Homo sapiens: one gene and its partner. The protein of the gene in region 1 interacts with the protein of each later gene in a pairwise test. Each region holds a gene or a part of one and is shown in the gene's direction. Other genes may lie near its edges.

Region 1 (3,652 bases):
TTTATTGGATACAAGGCAGAAGGGGCAAGGTAAAGAATGTGAGTCACCTCCAATGATAGGTAAGGTCATGTGGGTCACATATCCACTGGACAGGGGGCCCTTCCCTGCCTGGCAGCCGAGGCAGAGAGGGAGAGGAGACAAAGAGAAAGACAGCTTACACCATTATTTCTGCATATCAGGGACTATTAGTATTTTCACTAATTTACTACTGCTATCTGGAAGGCAGAGCCAGGTGTACAGGATGGAACATGAAGGTGGACTAGGAGCGTGACCACTGAAGCACAGCATCACAGGGAGACGGTTAGGCCTCCGGATAACTGTGGGTGAGCCTGACTGATGTCAGGGCCTCCACAAGAGGTGGAGGAGCAGAGTCTTCTCTAAACTCCCCCAGGGAAAGGGAGACCCCCCCCCCCACCCCGCTTTCCCGGTCTGCTAAGTAGCTGGTGTTGTTTCTTGACACCTTTTGCTACCGCTGGACCATGATCCGCTTGGTGACGGGCGTCTTCCCAGATGCTGGCGTCACCGCTAGACCAAGGAGCCCTCTGGTGGCCCTGTCCAGGCATAACAGAAGGCTCGCACTCCTGTCTTCTGGTCACTTCTCACTATGTCCCCTCAGCTCCTATCTCTGTATGGCCTGGTTTTTCCTAGGCTATGATTATTGAGTGAGGATTATCATAATATTGGAATAAAAAGTAATTGCTACCCACTAATGATTAATGATACTCATATATAATCATATCTAAGATCTATATCTGGTATAACAATTCTTGTTTTATATTTTATTATACTGGAACTGCTCGTGTCCTCTGTCTCTTGCCTCGGTGCCTGGGTGGCTTGCCACCCACACACCATGTCCATAACTCCCCAGCCTCTACTCAGGAGAGTGCCTTCCCCTGACACCACAAAGGCAGTTGGACCCCCCACTTCCTCCTGTCTCTGATTCTAGGGCTGTGCACCCATAGCACCAGGAAATGTCTCTGTTTAACTCAATTCCTGAAACTGCATGCTCTCTTCTTCAACCCCCCAACACTGGGGAGTGGGGGAAGGACACTGGCAGCAGTGGTTGCAGGAAGTACTTAATTCCAAGTGTTAACATGAGGTAGGGGAGAGGTCAGAGGGTTAAGCTGGCAGGAGGAAGAGGAAGGAAGAAGCTGAGGTTCAGCTGACTGTTGCAGGATGAGACCTCCAGCATGGGTGGAGTGGTGTGTGGGGACTGCTACAAGCCCAGGGACTGTGAGATGGTGTTAGGTACAATTACATAGCAGGAATGCCTGCCGGGGCCCATGCTAGACCTCCTGCCGCTTTCCACTGGTGTGCAGGCTAGGGAGTATTAGGGTGGAAGAGCAGGACCCTTTGTTCAAGGGTGTCTCCTGAGGCAGGACCTTCACTAGCACAGAAATCCACTTAGCCCCTGAAGTTCCAGGGGCTCAGTCAAATATTAGAAATCTTGCCAGGCACGGTGGCTCACACCTGTAATCCCAGTACTTTGGGAGGATGAGGCAGATGGATAGCTTGAGGTCAGTAGTTTGAGACCAGCCCGGCCAACATGGCGAAACCCCATCTCTACTAAAAATACAAAAATCAGCCAGGCGTGGTGGTGCGTGCCTGCAATCCCAGCTACTCAGGAGGCTGAGGCAAGAGAATTGCTTGAACCTGGAAGGCGGAGGTTGCAGTGAGCTGAGATTGCACCAATGCACTCCAGCCTGGGCAACAAGAGCGAAACTCCGTTGCAAAAAAAAAAAAAAAAATCCAGCCAGGTACGGTGGCTCATGCCTATAATCCCAGCACTTTGAGAAGCCGAGGCAGGCGGATCACCTAAGGTCAGCAGTTTGAGACCAGCCTGACCAACATGGTGAAACCCCATCTCTACTAAAAATGCAAAAATTAGCTGGGCGTGGTGGCACATGCCTGTAATCCCAGCCACCTGGAAGGCTGAGGCAGGAAAATCGGTTGAACCTGGGAGGTGGAAGTTGTGGTGAGCCGAGATCATGCCATTGCACTCCAGCCTGGTGACAGAGCAAGATTCAGTCACACACACACACACACACACACACACACACACACACACACACAAAGATCCTGGGAGTCTAGAGAGTCAGGGGGAAACTTTAAGGAGATTCAAACCTCCCCTTCAAGGGCAGGTGGGATTTGGGAGACAGAGAGGTCATTAGAGGCAAAAGAAAGAGCCCAGTGAAATGCCCAAGGTCAAAGACATGTATAGAGCATGCAGTGTGGCTCATGGTCTACCTCACTGCAGGGAAAACACCCACCATGCCCACCTCCCCCTGTGCTCTCCCAACAGGAGAAGACCCTGGCTTCCTTCAGCACCCAGTGGAGCCTGGATCGGTGAGGAGGCCTCAAAGTCTTTGCCAGTGGGGCTGTCTGGATGACCCCCTCCATCCTCCCTGGGGGTCTGCTCCTGCTTTGCCCAGACGCTCTGAGGGTCTCTGTGGTGATGGACTTGGCTCTCACTGTGCAGGAGCCGTACCCCCCGGGGACTAGATGATGAACTGGACACCGGGGATGCCAAGTTCTTCCAGGTCATTGAGCAGCTCAACTCGCAGAAGTACGGAGAACAAAGAGGGCTGGGGGGGCCGCAGGCCCTGAGGTCATATGGTGGAGAAGGGATGGTGCTCCCTGAGGGGCTGGAGGGAAGACTCGCCTGACCACCCCCTCTTGCCCTCACTCTGCCCTCTTCCTGCCCTTCTGTGCCCTCTGTTCTCTGGTGCTTTCACCCACCCTCCCACCTCCCACCAGACAGTGGAAGCAGTCGAAGGACTTCAACCCACTGACACTGTACTTCAGAGAGAAGGAGATGGAGAAAGAGGTGGGCTGTGGTGTGGGTGGCACCAAACAACTTCCCAACTTTAGTTCCTTGGTGCTGGGGAGGGGTCAGCCCTTGGGTCTCCTCCCCAAGTCTGCTCAGTTTGTGATCCTAGGGGTGAGGAGCTTGTGCCTCTCTCTAAAGGAAAGTCACTCTGTAGACTGAGCTACTAGATGGTAGGGGGAGGAAGGAGGGTAACTCCTTGGAGAACTGGTAGGGTCTACATGGAACTGAACTGGAGCCTGGGCGGTGAGGCTGAGGAGCCCACCCCTTGCCTGGGAGTGATGCCTTCAAGGTGATGGGTAGCACTGGACCCTGTCTCCACCTCTGGCCCTCTCACTTTCAGTACCGACTCTCTGCAATCCCCGCCTTCAAATACTATGAAGCCTGCACCTTCCTGGTTTTTCTCTCCAACTTCATCATCCAGATGCTAGTGACAAACAGGTGAGAGTGCCCCAGGCAAAGGAGGCCCTGGCTGTCATAAGCGGATCACCTTGCCCTCATGACCCCGGGCCACACTTTCTTCCTTCACCCCTTCCCCTTAGCTTCAGGCACTTACCCACAGAGGAAACATGTGTTCTGGGGAAAATGATAATCACGGCCCTTATCTTAACCTTGTAGATCCTGTGGACTTTCTACACAGCCCTAGCATTTTCCCATGAGCATCTCTTTTGATTCTAACAACATCCCCATGAAGGCCAGTTTGTTTCCATTGAGAAACCCAAATCTGGCAGCAAATGCATGAGCTTAGAAAGTAGGCCCTCATTCCTAGTCCACTGCTAGGAGGGATGAGGACTTGTTCTTAACTCAGCCAGGTGGCCGGGTGTG
Region 2 (3,652 bases), on another chromosome or scaffold:
AATTATAATACACTGTAAAATGCCTGGAGGACAAGAAACACGTTTTCTCTAGGTTCTGTGAAAGCATCATTATCCATTCACATTTTTCTCATAATTAGAACCTGACGTTCTGGAAAAATACAGTAAATTTTCATCGATGTTACTTGCTCTGCCCCCCTTGTATTCCTCCCATTAATAATATTAATCCTGAAAAGAAAAAAAGAAAAAGGAAAGAAACCACCCAAGCAAAATGTTTAAGAAATACGGTAAGGACAGTTTGGTCCCAATTTCCTTAAAAATTAGAGCCACCAAGTAAACCTGTTTGGGGGTCCTCACATCTGTCCTCTTTTGGAGTTTGCTAAGTAGTACAGTTGAAGTGAATTTTTTGGTAACAAAAGTAAAAACTTCCAGAATAACTCCAGTAAAGGGTGTTGATGTGACGTACAAGTTTGGAAATATATTTAATATCTGAGACTCCTCAATGTTGGTGTTATTTCCTCCAGTTTAGAACAAACTTAATCTTTTGATGAAAATCATAGAGTTCCATAGATATGAATAGAATCTCCAACCAGTGCATCTTGAAGCCGGCTGCCACGGCCACTCATGCACCTTCTCTCCTTTCAGGAGAGAATTGTCAGCATCTCTGCTCAAAACAATCTTTACTTTTAGTCCATCAGAGACTTCATGTTTGTCGTGCATGCACACTCACACCTCTCCACACATATGCCCACTCCCCACACACATCCTGCTTCTGAGAAATGCAACTAGAATTTCCTCCGGAGAAGAGATGGAAACCCCTGATTGAGAAATTTAAGGCCTAGGAAAGGTAAATGACTTTTCTTAAGTCACATGGCTCACCACAGAACCAAAGCTGGAACACACATACCCTCAGCTCTTCTTCCAGTGCTTTCAGGTATACAAGTATTTGAACAGGATTCAAGGTTTAACTCCTTATGTGTCATTCAGTGTATCCAGTGTAAGTAAAATGTTACCCCTTAGTCAGAACAGCCTTGAGAATTTCTCAATGACTACAAACCTTGCTTAGTTCTATACAAGGGAAGTAAAAGAGAGAGAATGTCATGACCAAATGACTTAACTTTTGAAGGCAGCCTATTGCAAACTTGAATAATTGGGGCATGTATTTTATTGATTGTTTGACCTATAAGGACAGATATTTTAAAATATAAATTCAAAATTGCTTTTTTGCAGCATTCACCTGTAGGCCTTCTATATCTGCTCTTTGTGAAATAGATGGCTTCCAGAGCATTAAAAAAAGAAATAGACATTTTCTTGGTTCAAGAGCTGTAATCTGCTTTCCGAGTGATTTTTCATAGTTAAGCATATTTTATGTGCACATAGTTTCATTTGAGATCTGAGAGGATTTCATCTAAAACGGAAAAGTTATTACCTGTGAAGGAGAACAAAGGAAAAGGAAAAAGAAATTTTAAGAAAAAAAAATTTTTTTAAACCTGTAGTTACTTTATGTTCAAGTGGGTATTTTCAACGCTGAGTTGCTGAAATGGTTTTTTATTGAAAGAAGGTTAAAAGTGTATTTCATTGAAAGCCAAGATAAACAGTAGATTTTGTATCATTTTAAAAATCAACAATCGGCCGGGTGTGGTGGCTCATGCCTGTAATCCCAGCCCTTTGGGAGGCCAAGGCAGGCAGATCACTTGAGGCCAGGAGTTCAAGACCAGCCTGGCCAACATGGTGAAACCCCATCTCTACTAAAAATACAAAAATCAGCTGGGTGTGGCAGTGCATGCCAGTAATCCCAGCTACCCAGGAGGCTGAGGCACAAGAATTGCTTGAACCTGGGAGGTGGAGGTTGCAGTGAGCCCTGATTGTGCCACTGTAATTCAGTCTGGGCGCAGAGTGAGACTCTGTCTCAAAAACAAACAAACAAATAATATAAAAATCAACAATGAAGACTCCCCAAACAAAAGAAATCAGGATTCTTAGCCAGTCATAGGTAAAGTGTTACAGTGTAAATTGAAGGGAAAGAAGACCAAAATTGGTGAAATATGTTTGGTCCCAGAAGATAATTAAGATGAATAAAAGAACTTGAGAGTATTTTCTCATTATTAAGCATCTTCAGCTTTAAAGATTTTAGTTAGCAAAGCAAGTTTACATAAACAGTTTTCTGAACCTGGGATGGCATTCACTGTGAGTTAGAAATCTCCAAGTCATCCACGTTTTCCCTGTTTTATTTGCAGCCATTCGTTATCTATGACATGAATTCCTTAATGATGGGAGAAGATAAAATCAAGTTCAAACACATCACCCCCCTGCAGGAGCAGAGCAAAGAGGTGGCCATCCGCATCTTTCAGGGCTGCCAGTTTCGCTCCGTGGAGGCTGTGCAGGAGATCACAGAGTATGCCAAAAGCATTCCTGGTTTTGTAAATCTTGACTTGAACGACCAAGTAACTCTCCTCAAATATGGAGTCCACGAGATCATTTACACAATGCTGGCCTCCTTGATGAATAAAGATGGGGTTCTCATATCCGAGGGCCAAGGCTTCATGACAAGGGAGTTTCTAAAGAGCCTGCGAAAGCCTTTTGGTGACTTTATGGAGCCCAAGTTTGAGTTTGCTGTGAAGTTCAATGCACTGGAATTAGATGACAGCGACTTGGCAATATTTATTGCTGTCATTATTCTCAGTGGAGGTAAGATTTGTCTTTTGATCTTCTATGAAAGAGGGTGGGATGATGGTGGGGTGGCCAAAAGAATTTTGGATTTCCTTAGTGTTAGTCTGCATTGTCACTTTAAGTGCCAGTGGCATGATGCCATGAATCATCACTACACGTGCAAAACACTGTACCAAGAAAGAGTGTCATAGGTTTGCGGTGTGAAGGTTATAAGTAACCCAGGATCTTCTCTTTCATCCCTCAACAATATATTTTTTCCAGTCAAATGCCCTCTTCTCCTTTTTCTTTTTCTTTTCTTTTCTTTGTCTCTTTCTTTTCCTTCCAGAAAGGAAGATTAGAGGCCAGTCTAATCTTTGGTTCCTGTAAGTAATGGCATGTATAACTTTGCTTAAGACAATGCTCACTTGATGTAGAGAAGGGACCACTAAGTATTTCTGGTCAAATCATGCTCCTGCCCCACCATCAGTAAGATACTACTTTGAATTGCTTTTGTGATATCAGGAATTAAGGAATACCTACTGACCTCCACCCACTCTCTTGTGTGGATTCCTCTGATGGCTTCCCTTAAAGTACCTTTGTGAGGTAGTTGGTTGTGATTAAGAATGCAATGTGAACCGAACACACAACATAGAAATAAATTTAGTTATTTAGCAATTTGTTGTATTTTTGGCCCTGCAAGTAGTACATGATCTGACTAACCAATTCCAAAAGCCAGATTTTCTTCTGAGTGTGACTTTTTTCTTTTTTTTTTCTTTTTTTTTTTTCCTTTTTTTTTTTTTTTTTTTTTTTGTGAGACAGGGCCTCACTCTGTCACCCAGACTGAAGTGCAGTTGCACAGTCATAGCTCACTGCAGCTTCTAACTGCAGTTAGTAAGCTATGATCATGCTACTTCATAAAAGTAATACGTGGCCATTTTACAGTTGGGCTCAAGTGATTCTCCCACCTCAGCCTCCCAAGTAGACAGGACAACAGCTGCACACCAACATGCCCTGCTAATTTTAAAAATTTTTTTGTAGAGATGAG

The links. Proteins that work in one complex are often made in the same cells at the same time.
Region 2: the proteins of ADCY4 (region 1) and PPARG interact in binary tests that used the Homo sapiens proteins (3 or more experiments, as listed by UniProt).

Annotation. Positions count from the first base shown.
Region 1 is NC_000014.9:24,324,993-24,328,644, reverse strand, and holds part of ADCY4 (adenylate cyclase type 4), read left to right. Parts: intron 1-2,302; coding exon 2,303-2,346; intron 2,347-2,479; coding exon 2,480-2,566; intron 2,567-2,757; coding exon 2,758-2,827; intron 2,828-3,170; coding exon 3,171-3,268; intron 3,269-3,652. UniProt on the Homo sapiens protein: Catalyzes the formation of the signaling molecule cAMP in response to G-protein signaling.
Region 2 is NC_000003.12:12,414,509-12,418,160, forward strand, and holds part of PPARG (peroxisome proliferator-activated receptor gamma), read left to right. Parts: intron 1-2,195; coding exon 2,196-2,646; intron 2,647-3,652. UniProt on the Homo sapiens protein: Nuclear receptor that binds peroxisome proliferators such as hypolipidemic drugs and fatty acids.